Linked DNA regions of Homo sapiens. The protein of the gene in region 1 purifies or fractionates together with the protein of each later gene. This does not show direct contact. Each region holds a gene or a part of one and is shown in the gene's direction. Other genes may lie near its edges.

Evidence for each region. The genes of interacting proteins can lie anywhere in the genome.
Region 2: the proteins of STXBP6 (region 1) and VTI1B purify together in Homo sapiens (affinity purification with mass spectrometry; 2 studies listed by BioGRID and IntAct, with this or other methods). This does not show direct contact.

Annotation. Positions count from the first base shown.
Region 1 is NC_000014.9:24,850,557-24,858,963, reverse strand, and holds part of STXBP6 (syntaxin-binding protein 6), read left to right. Parts: intron 1-1,806; coding exon 1,807-1,937; intron 1,938-2,862; coding exon 2,863-3,028; intron 3,029-8,407. UniProt on the Homo sapiens protein: Forms non-fusogenic complexes with SNAP25 and STX1A and may thereby modulate the formation of functional SNARE complexes and exocytosis.
Region 2 is NC_000014.9:67,645,882-67,650,632, reverse strand, and holds the end of VTI1B (vesicle transport through interaction with t-SNAREs homolog 1B), read left to right. Parts: 3' UTR 1-2,449; coding exon of another isoform or gene 2,450-2,586; 3' UTR 2,587-3,548; downstream 3,549-4,751. Other genes in the region: ARG2 (arginase-2, mitochondrial precursor), read right to left, coding at 2,450-2,586, 3,608-3,712, 3,895-3,989. UniProt on the Homo sapiens protein: V-SNARE that mediates vesicle transport pathways through interactions with t-SNAREs on the target membrane. These interactions are proposed to mediate aspects of the specificity of vesicle trafficking and to promote fusion of the lipid bilayers.

The DNA of each region.
Region 1 (8,407 bases):
AGCCTTTATGTTTCCCAGGCTTAAATGTTGTATGATTTACATAAACACAGGAGGAAATTCTCTTTGTGCATTTAGGGGTGTGTGTCTAATACAGGAACCCATGTTTTCCTGTTATTGAAAAGCCTTTTTTAATCTTTTAAGCACATTTTAAGACCTGCCTGTATTCCAGGTGTATTGTTTTCTTTAACATTAAAACGTAAGAGCAGGTCACAGCCATCAGAGAAACCTATTAGGTCTCCCATTTGTGTCATAGGAGACACAAAAAATAAATGAATCGAATTAAATGGATAGACAGAGTCCTGGGCAGACTGGTAATACTGCCTGAATTCAATTAGAGGGAATGGTTGTTCCTATTTGTGAATAGAAGACTATAAAATTTCATCTGATTGTGGGTGTTAAGGGGATGATGACTTCTTAATCATAAAAGTAAATGTAATTGGTATGAAATATTCAGAAGTTTTTAGCAAATATAACTGAAATAATGGGTGATAAACCAAAACATTATTTGAACTTAAAAACAAATCTTCACTAAATTTTGGTTGGAAGCAGAGAGAGTAGATAGTACTCAGGCCATAAAGGTGGTTTTCAGTGCTGGGAAAGTAGGGTTCTCACTAGATCTAAGGACAGTGGCCACCTTTCCTTTGTCTCTGCTCTCCTGCTTTAATGGCCCCCGACAATGAAACTGCAATAAGCTATGGAATGCGTGAACTGTAGAGTCTCCCTGCTCACCAACTGTGATTGGAGTAGGTGCTTTCTGTACTTCATCCCTTCAGAATTCTTTTTGCCATCTGTTGAGCATCTACATAGTTATTCGAAAGTGTGGAATCTGTGGGGTGATTCGAAACAAAGAATATGCCACAGATGCATAGTCTTCAGCAAGTCAGTAATTAGGATCATCTTCAATATAGCCAATAATGATTTCTACTTTCTGTAGTTCCTTTCTATTTAATTTGCTAATTCCTATAGCCAGGGTTCAGGAGAAGCTTTTAGGAAATCCCTTTAAAGACAATTAATTACTTCCTACCCTTGAGTCTCCATGTCACAAAGTAGGCAGATGTAGAAATATTCAGAGTGCCTCTCCTGGTGCCTGATGCTTGGCTTCAGTCTGAGAGGTGATGCTGTCCATCTTTAGCACAGAAAGGCTTAGGGGAAGAACTCACTGAGGCTGAGAGAAGAAATTGTCCTTTTCCTACAGGTGTGGAGGTGTGCCCAGAACACCAGATTCAATCATAATTAGATGCAAACTAGATACAAACTGAACAATATTAGAGAGCCAAATAGTTTGGGGATTTTTTGAGTTAGGGATTACTCCTCATCACTGAAGCCTAAGATGTTTACACTGGACTATAAAACTAGAAATATACCTTGCAGTTCTCTAGGGGAGCCAATTACCTTCATTTCCTTTCAAATTCAGCCTTTCCCAGTGAACCTTACCTGATGCCTGTCAGTACTATATGCTTCTTTTCCTGCAAGCTGTAATTGTGCACTTATAGCCTCCATTGAAGGTGCTTGGTGTTATTCACTTAAGTCATTTTCAGTTTGAATGGATAAACACATAAATGAAGCAGCCCTTACAATTATAATTATATTGTAAACTGCTTCAGAGTGGAGATTGTAACATCTATTTCCTTTACGTTCACCCCTGACCAAAGGCACACATATTTATTCATATTCCCTCCTTTCCCCCTCTGCCTTCTCTCTGTTATTGTGCATATACACAGTAGGTGTCCTGTAGAAACAGCACTGAATGTGGAAACAAACCACCAACTTGCAGGTGCACTAATCTGAGTGATCTTTTCTTGGCAGTGACAAACAAGAAACCCACACAGGCGTCCATCACAAAGGTCAAACAGTTTGAAGGCTCCACATCATTTGTTCGGAGATCACAGTGGATGCTCGAGCAGCTTCGCCAGGTTAATGGTATCGATCCTAATGGGGTGAGTGAATTGTCCAATGCTGAGCAAAGGCATTCTTTTCACAAGATGACTCTCTGATTGACCTTGGTAGTGGTAGTGGTGGTTTGAATCATTCTTAAGAAGGCTATTTCTCTATTTCAATTATGTGATTAAAACTTTCGGATACAGAGTCCTTTCTTATGGGAAATTATAAATCTTTTCATCATGTTTAATAGAGGAATCTAACAGAATGCATATTGAAAAAATGTGACCTCCGGTAACATTGATCAGCAAAGTACGAAGTTCAGAGTGCAGATAATCATATCGATGGTTATCAATATGGAAAAAAAAAAACATGTTTACCAAAACCTCATTTATCTCCTACTGGCACTAATGACAAGGTGTATTTACCAAAAATCAAGTAAATGAATGGTATCTTTCAGTATGCATTGTGATTCCCTTGCTTTTAATAGGAGAAACATTTTATGGCATAGTTATCTATGCAAAGTACATTCCCGTTGCTCACATGCACACCTCACAAAATGCTAATAATGAAGAATAATAAAATATAAATTGTTACTATAGACTAAAATAACAAGAGGGAATCTTCCTACCAAAGTTTAGGGGCCAGATTAATATAGGTCGTTGCTGAGAACCTAAAGGAATCCCTTTTCCAGGAAATTGGGAAGATAATACATGGTCTCAATTCTGACATTTGTCAGTGTTTAGTTAGGCTATCTCAATTTGTGTGATACTAGTTTCCTAGGAACATGTATCAATACTGTAAGATTTGGGGTTTGCTTCATAAACAGAGAAATGTAGACTCTCCATACACTTGGATAAAGATGAGCCTTATGATTGCGATCAAAGTCTTTGTTTTAGCCCTTATAAATCTTTTGACAGGAGTAATCTAGAAACAGCAGTTTTTATAGATTGAGATTAGTAGTTATTTCATTGTCTTTTCCAGGATTCGGCAGAGTTTGATTTGTTGTTTGAAAATGCTTTTGACCAGTGGGTAGCCAGCACAGCGTCAGAAAAATGCACCTTCTTCCAGATCCTCCACCATACCTGCCAGAGGTACCTCACGGACAGGAAGCCAGAGTTTATTAACTGCCAATCCAAAATTATGGGAGGTGAGTGGACATTTGTGTGACTTTAGTCATCCTGTTTCTTTAGACTCACTTTTACTTAAGAAGTTAGGAGTTCAGCAGCATAATTAAAGACAAAAACAGGAGAAGAATCAATATGCTCAGAGCTAGACAACATAAGAACCATTCCAGGGAGTTTATTGTATGGTAAATTTAGACACAAAGGTATGTTTTCACTCTTGTCCAAAAGCTGGTCTTTTTTAGAATTAGCCTTCTAGTTCTTATCTGCACTTAGCTAAGATTATTTGAATGATGAGAACAAAACTGCTCCCTTATTAGAAAAACCTTTTATTTTGGTTTCTTTACTACCTTTTCTATAATTTCATTGCAGAACACCATTTTCTGGGTTGCCTTTTTCTATTTTTTCTCAAGATGTTTTACAAATATTAATATAAAAATTCCAACAGATGCTTCCCCTTTCTTTCAAAAGCAACTCGTGTTTATTCCTTGAATGGCATACAGAGCTGAGTTAGGATGAGTACAGTAAGCCACTGTAAAGGGGTGAGTGCCAGCATCGGCAACATAATGAGAAATGTTTAGAGGGTGCTTAGCACATTTCTTAGGTGGCATTTCTTTTTAGAGAATTGATACTGTGCTAAAAATGTAAAAGCCTTGACAACTCTGTGAGTTGGGGAAGAGTGTTTATATCATTGGTCTTTTCACTGACCTGTCTCTTGGTTTTGAAAGACTGTTTTTAAAAATGCACCAGCTTTGCCTTAATCAGATGTTAAATGAAGATCACGTTAAATACATCACATCTTCTCCTTGGGCTGTATATATGTTTCATATGAACATACAGCAGAATCCATTACTCTGTCCTAGCAACTGACACACATACTGTCATTTTGCCATTAGTTACTAGAAGTTGTATAGAGAAGTTATTATCCAATTCTTTGGTATTAGCCACTGAGGTATTGGCATTCCTTTTAAGTAGGAAGTTGCTTACATCATAAGAACCTTGGAAGGTCTTTCTTAGGTATTTATGCAGCTTATTTTATTATAGTTTCTCTGTTTAATCCCAGGAAAATACAAGAGGTGATGAATGGTGTATATTTTTTCAAGGGGTCACATCCTATGGTACAAAAGTGAAAAATATTAGACATAGATGTTTAAAGGAAAGGGAATTTCAAACACTGACCTATTTGGAAAATATAATAAGATATAGCTCTGTATCATGTCTGCGCCACCAGTGCTCTTAAAATGACTCCTGCTTTGAAAGTCCAGCCTTAACGGACTTGGCAGAAGGTTGAAGCACACCAGGCTTAGGACCACAGAGGGCCACATTTTCAGTGAATGGAAAGTTGGCCAGGAAATCCCAGGTTTCCCTCATTCTTCATTAGGTGGAGTTTGCTCTGATAGCCTAGAATCACATTTGTTTCTTAATCTTCAATTCCTGCTATGAAGCATTTTTCTCATCCATGTCCATATGGTCAGTAGCTTGCATGGCTAGCATGTAAGCACAGAGTCTCTTCTCAAAATAATGTGACATTATGGATTTGAAATTTCTGTTGCTCTTGGAGAAAGACTCCCCTCAAGCATTGCACTTCTTCATGTTCCGTCCTGGGCAGTGTGGCCAGAAACAGACCAAGTGCCATAGAAACTACTGCACTTCCTCAGAATGGAAATGTGGATGGAAGCAAAAGGGCCACACACTCACTGTCCTTCCAAGGGAAACGAGCTACCTCCTTCATTCTAAGGTTAGGGATAGCTTTGCTGACTCTTCCTCTTCCTCCCTTAACAGACTGCACTAGGCAGTCCCCCTGCTCTGTTTCCCCTAAAGGTCTCATTTCTTCTCTAGGAACAGGCTTTTTCTTTCCTTCATTCAATTACAGTTCATTATCCAATCATACAATAAATGAGAACTAAGAACCTACTACATGCTAGTCACTGTGCTACGTATTGGACATAGAGAATAATTCTATATTTGGTTCCTTAATAGACCCTAATTGCCACTACTCAAATCCCAGACTGATAGATCTCTAATTTGTTCTTCCTTTGCCTTCCTGAATATCCTCAGACCTTCCCACACAGCCCCACCACACTGCTTCTGTCCATCATTGAGCCAGCCCTTCAGCTTTCTTTCATTGCCTTGTGAACCCCAAATTATGCAGAGTTGAGATGGGAACACATATGTCCAGTGTTAAATTGTTGGTATGTGTATTTAGGCAAGCCGAATATTGGTTTCCTGTAGTAAGAAAAAATTAGAATAAGTTAATAAAACCAAATGCCAGAATTGCCTTTGCCCTGTGTAACTGTAGGTGTGTCTCTCAGCTGCTCTAGACTTCAGTTTTCCCAGGTGTCACATGTAGAGGTTAGACTAGATGCTATATAAAATCTCTTTCAGTTCCATCACTTTGAAAGTCTGTAATTCCTAAATTATAGTTTTATTGTGTAGGTTAATTGCTTCTTATCTAAAGAATCAAAGATTTAGCGCAATTAAATATTGACAAGTCCTGGATTACTAAGGAAGGCACAAAAAGGTTTAAATTAAGCATGTAGTAATTTGTTGGCAGCACATATAACCTTAGTGAATGCAGCATGTCTTAAACAGTTGCTTATGCTTAATAATAGTTGTGCCAACACACCCTGATAAATTAGTATGCCGATTAGTCTTCTTTTCTGCCAGCTATCACACTTCTGAGACTTCAAAATTAGGTGCTTCTGGGGCCACTACATTCTGACCTCTTTAACTTTTGGGTATCTTCCACATCTTTAGGATATGAAATCTGTTGCCAGTTTCACAGTATCTTTTGGTCTCTTCCTATAGTATGGGCCACAAGTCCTAGATACCATTGTTTCTTATACCATGCAATAGGATAGTTTTATGATTTTAAAGAACTAATACTGGTGTTAGTATGCTGCCCAACACCAGATTCTATACATATGTTATCTAATTTAATTTTTATAGCAGACTTTGGAAATATGCTTTATCAACTCCATTTTATAGAGAAGGAAACAGAATCAGAGAGATCAAATAGCTTGCCAAGGGTCATATAACTAGTAAGTCGTAAAGATAAGATGCCAGGGCAGGCCCACTTATTGGCTCCTTAAAGCCACTGAGTGGCATGCTCCAGGAAACACCATTGACATTGTCTTTGTTATGAATGGTGCCCCCTGGAGTTGTATATGAATTGCTGGGAATATTTTAGCCACTACATTCCTGGGTATTAAAAAGGGAGGTGGGAGAAAACCCGCCTTTATGGATAGTTTTAACTTTTTTCCTAGTTTTGTCCCAGGAAAATATTTAAGATAATTCTTAAGCTATTTTTTTCATCCTAAGAACAATCGAGTCATCAAGCACCTTTAAAATCATCTTGCTTTTTGTTTTTTGTGTTTGTCCACCAGAACTTCAATAGAGGAAATAGATGAAAGCACTGGGAAGACAGTGCAGCCCTAGCCGCCTACAGGGCCTCTCAGGTACTCTATGCCAACCTAAAATAATGAAAAGGGTCAGAATCTAGATTAAAGAGACTTTAAGTGCAAAGGTTGAGGACAAGCCCACCCAAGAAGCACAGATTCCTAACAATGGAAGTCAGTGTTACAAAGCGTAGACGTGTGAGATTGCTTATGTAGACAAAGCCTGGGGAATTTTAGCAGAATTTCAGCATCTTTCTATGTAAGGCTTAATACATAGTCACAATGACCTGATTAGTTCAGATGGTCCTCCTCTTTTGAGAAAGGTACATTTAACATTCCATTGCAGTTACTGCAGATGTAACTGTCATGGGGTCCCTGTTCAGAGCACCATCTAGTCTGAGTTAGGTCAGGAGATAGGTCAGGACAATAAAGAAGGCAGTTAATCTCTAACAAAGATTTGTGATTGGAAGGTAGAGGTCTGGTCTCTGGTCTCCTAGTCACTTACAGAACAAAACAATGAGGAAGAGAGTTAAGCTATAATCTAAGAAGTAGAATTGCAAAACATGCTGCATGACTCAGATCACAGCCATATCTCTCTCAAGGCTTAAAGTGTTTTTGGGGGTTCCAACAGCTTTTAAATTGTATTTATTTTCACAGCTGTATCTGGACCAACCCTGTCATTGGGAAAACTGAGGCCCAGCAATTTTGAATGACTTTGTCAAGGCCAGGGACTATGCAACAACCTACAGAGATTGAAGGCAGAGGTGGGGAGCCAGGTCTGGCTGCTGAAATGTGACATGACCACATGAGTGACAGGGGTCCCTGAAAGTACAGTCTTTAGTTCATATGGTTTGGATTTACTTCTTCTGAAATGGTGGCTTTTATTTTCTCTGTGTTTATTGTAAACAGAAATGATGTTATACTGTTATACGTGTGATGACACATTTGTACTTCAAAGGTGCCTCAAAGGAGTTAATAACGTGTTATTAGACTCCACAGGAGGGACTTGCTTTCAGCTAATTCATTTCAAACAGATGTTGAGAATGATGGTTCTGTTGCAAGGACAAAAAACCAAACACCGCATGTTCTCACTCATAGGTGGGAATTGAACAGTGAGAACACATGGACATAGGAAGGGGAACATCACACACCGGGGCCTGTTGTGGGGTTGGGGGAGGGGGGAGGGATAGCATTAGGAGATATACCTAATGCTAAATGATGAGTTACTGGGTGCAGCACACCAACATGGCACATGTATACATGTGTAACTAACCTGCACGTTGTGCACATGTACCCTAAAACTTAAAGTATAAAAAAAAAAAAAGAGACGTGGTCTGCCTCAAATAGATTGTCAGTATAGATTAACGGGTATGCCATATTAGGTCAAGGTCCCAAGGAAGACTTTGTTACTTTACTTACATCAGTATTCTTTAAACGTGAGCAAATCCCACATGGCTCCCACATTGCTATTTCATTTGTGTTGACCAATTTATAATGATTACTGTTGGCCTAGTATTCATATGCCTAATACTGTGAACTGTAGAAATCTTTGGTGATACTGGCAATTTCTATATTAGAACCACAAAGTAGGTTCTTTGCAAACCCATTTTCTTTTTCATTAAGAGGTATAAATTATTTGCAAGAAAAAATAATTTATTCTTCAAGATAAGCATAAACTGAAGCATATCCAAGCCTTTTACTTGAACTCTGAGCCCGAATACCCTAGCTAACTCATTCAGTTCTCTCTTAACTATTTCACCTGTTGTATGTCATCCTTCAGTGATCCCACAATCATTTACTCAGCGCTATGTAAATGTGCTAAACTAGCTGTGGAGATCCAGTCACACAGTAGGCACCTTCACCAGCTTGACTTACTTTCTGGACATATCAGATGTAAATAGACGTGAAACATTGCCATGACAGTAAGGGGATGGCTGAGCTGGAGGTTAAAGGATGGTTAGCAGTTGCCAGACAGACAAGGGCAAGATGAAATTAGCTCTCTCTTAT
Region 2 (4,751 bases), about 43 Mb from region 1:
AAGCCAAAGTAAAAACAAGAGTCCATTTTATAGTAGAAAATACCTATTTTTAGGAAGCCCCTTGCACCTCATCCTCTTGGCCATGAATTTAAGTTAAAACACTGTTGTGCTATAGTAGATTAAAAGAAACCTTTTAAGATAATGAAATAAACCATCCCTGTTCAACTAACATAACAGGCATAATTGTCAGGCGTTCTGGAAAAGGAAAAGGCTTGGTGTTGGGTGGGGGAGGTTTTCATCCTGCTTGTTGGCAAAATGTATGCCACCTCCAGTATGACTAGGAACCTTCCAGATGCCTGCCTGGAAATGAATCAAGTATGAAGGCAGAGGAAATCTGCCACTTGCACTAGCCAAACTGCATTCCCACTTTTGAACTCTAATGTGTTATCTGTATCTGTTAGAGCACCACACCATATGCCCTGAAATGTAGTTATTACTGCAAACTTCATTCTCACCCCTGCAGGCCTGAGCTCTGGAGGCAGGTTCCACATCTAACAACATCTTTTTGTCTCCCAGCAGACTGACCCAGTGTCTTGTACTTGATCAAGAGAAAATTCAGCCATATGTTAATTATTTTATCTGGACTTCAGTTACCTTCTGTTAAGGTTTGAGAACTTGTGTCAAAGTTCTCGGTAGTGTTCCTTTGGCCTGGAGCAAGTGGAAGGGAAGCTTAAACCAGAAGAACCTATCCAGACCTGCTACTATGCTCACCCCTCTAAATGCCTCACTTCTCTATAGAATTTAACTTTTTAGTTGGTTATTCTGGATGAAGGGTGATCTGAACAAGCTAGTATTCAGGAATACAAGTATCTAAGAATATTTAGGGTGGCCATAAAGTCTGGAAACACAGGCAAATGTACCTAATGGTTTATTGATATTACACTATAGTACATGATGTGCTGAATGCCATCATGTCCGTTCAGCATCTTCCCTTATTAGCAATGCATAGTTGAGTGTACAGTGCCAAACTGCAACCAACAGGTGTATTACTGTAGCATTTCCATCATTTCCTGCACATGGACCTGTGTTCCTGATTTGTCTCTGATTTCCACTGACTAAACCTGCACCTTTAGCATATCCCAGAAGTGGTCATCAAAGTTTGCACTATTAGAAATATATACATGACTTATGTTTCCAGACTATTGCCACCCTATAAATTAAGCAAACTGCTTTATGTATCTAGTTGACAGCATTATAACAGTGCAGTGGCACAATCATGGCTCACTGCAGCCTCAACCTCCCAAGTAGTTGGGACACCTGGCTAATTATTTTTTGTAGAAACGGGGTCACACTATGTTGCCCACGCTGGTCTTGAACCCCTGGGGTCAAGTAATCCTCTTGCCTTGGCCTCCCAGAGTACTGGGATTATAGGTATGAACCACTGTGCCTAGCCCCATGAGTGTCTTTTGGAGTAAAATATTGTAGCATAGGAACAAAGAGACAAGCCATGCCATATATAAGTGCTAGAGGTTATTAACCCCTGCTCTAAGTGGTGTTTTTAGGAAGCAAAGCAGAGAATTGAACCCCCAAGTTCTCTGGCCAATAACCTAAGGACCACTGGCAACATCTAAGATTGCAGATCTGAGAATTAGACCAGTACTGCCTGCCTTTTTGTACTGCCTAAGGTTCTGGCAGGCTGTGGCGCTAAGGAGACCATTTCTCAATGTGAGTTTCTATCCCAGCTAGTCAAGGGTTCTCTATAGCCCTGAACCTTTCAATCTGGGGTCTCTATCTATACCCTAGTTCCATCAGATGGTTACTGAAGCAGTATGATTTGGTAGTTCTTTAAATTTTGGAATGAAAGGTCATTTGAAGTAGCTTTAAAACCAGAAGCTTTCTGACAGAAATGGAAACTGTTTGCAAACAAGTATGAGTTTTGGAAAAGTAGCCAGTCTTGATAACGTAGAATTCATCTTAGTACTCTTTCCATCAGCCATTCTCATCTAACTGTATCCCCCTTATTAGAAATCCTTTCAGGCTCTAGTACAAGACCTACCCTACATAAAGGACCCAAGATATTGTCCAGTTTGCAGATTTCTTCAAGAGATCAGCTTTAGCTCCAAATTCACAACTCCCAATGAACCAATCTCTTAGAGTGCAAATTACAGCCTTGCACTCTTATCTTATCTTGCCTTCTTATCTTAATCTGCCTTTAGATAACTCAAAGAACTGCATCAGTTTGACAATTTATTCTTGTATTTAATTGTTTAAATATACAATTTTTTACTCATTATTACCTTAGTGTAATTTGGTAAGAGCCATGTCCAAGCATGACTCTAAAGGACTATATCCTTTTTATTAGCATGGCCATATAATTTTTAGCTACAAAAGTTTAAGCAAAAACAAACTCTGCAATGATGTGGAATAGCAGAAAAGATCCTTTGCAGGCAAGAGACTCTAGCATATTTACCTATGTAGTTAACAGGCTGCAGACCTGGTTGCTACATACCTGTATTGTGTATTTCCTCAGCAATATACATGCCTTCTCGATAGGTTAGTCCCCCGACAACAGGAGTTCCTGTGGCTGGAGCCAGTGTAGGGTCAAATGCATCAATATCAAAACTCAAATGGATTGGTCTTTGTCTCCTAAAAAGGAAGAGGATAAAATAATACTTAAAATAATACTTAACTGGTTGTCCTTGGACACTCATCCTTCTTATGGTTGCAACTCCTTGATTTTGTTGCTATTAGTCCTAGTACTTTGTTAATAAAGCTGTTAATACATTTCCAGGCTTCCTATTCTTGGAAGTTACTGAGATTGGCAATATTAACTTCCTACATACCACTTCATGATACTGCCATTTGTTCTGCATACCTCAGACAGACTAACTCCAATGTATATTTCTGCCTTACACTGGGTATTAGAACCTCTTATACTAATAACTGTCAATAGAGAGATTTCTTCACTTCTAGATGAGATTGGGCTCTCATCTAGAGACAATTTAATTAGACAATTTAAATTAGTCTAATTTAAATTGGCTTGATGTAAGTTATGGTTGCTCTTATTCTCTGAACGTAACAGCAGCTGAAGTGAACTCTAATTTTAGGTCTGCAGTTTTAACATCTTCCATTTCTAACTTCATTATAGCCCCAGTGTCCAAAGGCTGAAGCTAACAACTAAGTTTCTTAACAGCTTATGAAATGACATACTACCAGATAACAATTCTGACATTAATCACCCAGAAGTAAAGACTTGGTATTGGGAAAATGCTCTTAAAATTACCATTTGATTAGTATTCATCTGCCATCTTTCTACACTGCCAAGATTTGCTTAATATAAAACTCAGATGAAACAATCGTGAGGCTGGGAAGAATGGGACAGTTGAAACAATAAATGCTTGTCATCTCAGAAGATAAGCATTAAAGATGGAGATAAAGAAAAATTCATGAGACAGAAGATCTAGGCAATGATTTAGAGGAAACCTCCTCCCAAAAACCCCAGAGGAAGAATATGACCTGTGTTTCAAATTTTGCCTTTCTGAACTATTTAAAATTATGTGTATGTTTTTGCTTTGTATTTTAAAAGTAAAGCTGCTGTCCTCAAGAAACAGGCTAAAAGTGTGTTGCCCATTGGGGGTTTGCCCTGACATCAGTTATAGTTACTTACTTGCCAATCAGCAGATCAAATGTTCGTTCCATGACCTTCTGGATACCAAGTCGATCAATATCTCTCATGGAAAAATACTGGATATCATAGTTCTTTAAAATAAAACTGTGATGAGATATAAAGGGAGGAGTCCTTAGTTTAAAGAGCATTTTTAACAAATATGTATTTGGGGGAGAGGGTGGGTTTGTTGTAGTGACCTGCAATAGACCAAGTTAAGCATCAGCCTTTCAAATAGAACATAATTGGCTAGGACAGGCCCTAAACTTCAGCCAAATGCATCAACTTACTGTTCAGGAGGGTCCACGTCTCTCAGACCAATATACACAATACTTGCAGAAGAGATACAAGGTTTGATCCAGGAAAATCCTGGGAGTTGTGGTACCTATGAAAGGGAGAAATGGACAGGATTAATCAAGAATTCTTGTTCTCACCAAGATCATTATCATGTGCGTCCGTGGGTATGCAATCTGCTTTCTTCTGCCACCCACAGGGTAAGTTTAGAGCAACACAGGACACACTTGATCTGGGAAGGAGAAGTGACACAAGGTGGAAATGTTTCAGAAGGGCAGCTGAGGAACACAGTATTGCTTTCTCAAGACGAATAAAATCTCTAAGGTTGTCTTGGTTTCTCATTAACTTACCTAGTAGCAGGAATACTGCTGATTAGCCCTTTTCTATCCCATTGCACATTACTGACTTGTTTACAGATTGGTTCTTGAAGCATAACCTGGTTGCCATCTCAAGTTGCCAACAGCCGACACAGGACTTCCGCCCAATGAATAATCTTTGTAGTGTCCTGGTTTGACTTGGTCCCTCACTGAGGGGAGGGATATACAGATTCTAGTCTGTGCCTAACATGGACTCCCATATATTCTGAACTGCTCAGGAAAATATTACCCAGAGGTCATGGTTTTATTTGTCTTCTAGATCAGTGTGTCTGAGAGTATGGCCTGGGAGCCTCTAACCAAGAAGTCCTCAGGCTGTGGGTATATCAGTCGCTATTGTTACTACCCCCTCCTTGCTTTCTTACAAAGAACAGAGACTATGTCTAGTCTTTATACCCCTAGCATCTGGCAGACTGCCTGGTCCATAATAGTGATGAACAAATGAAGGAGTGGTAATCCACACTCAACCCACCCTTCAC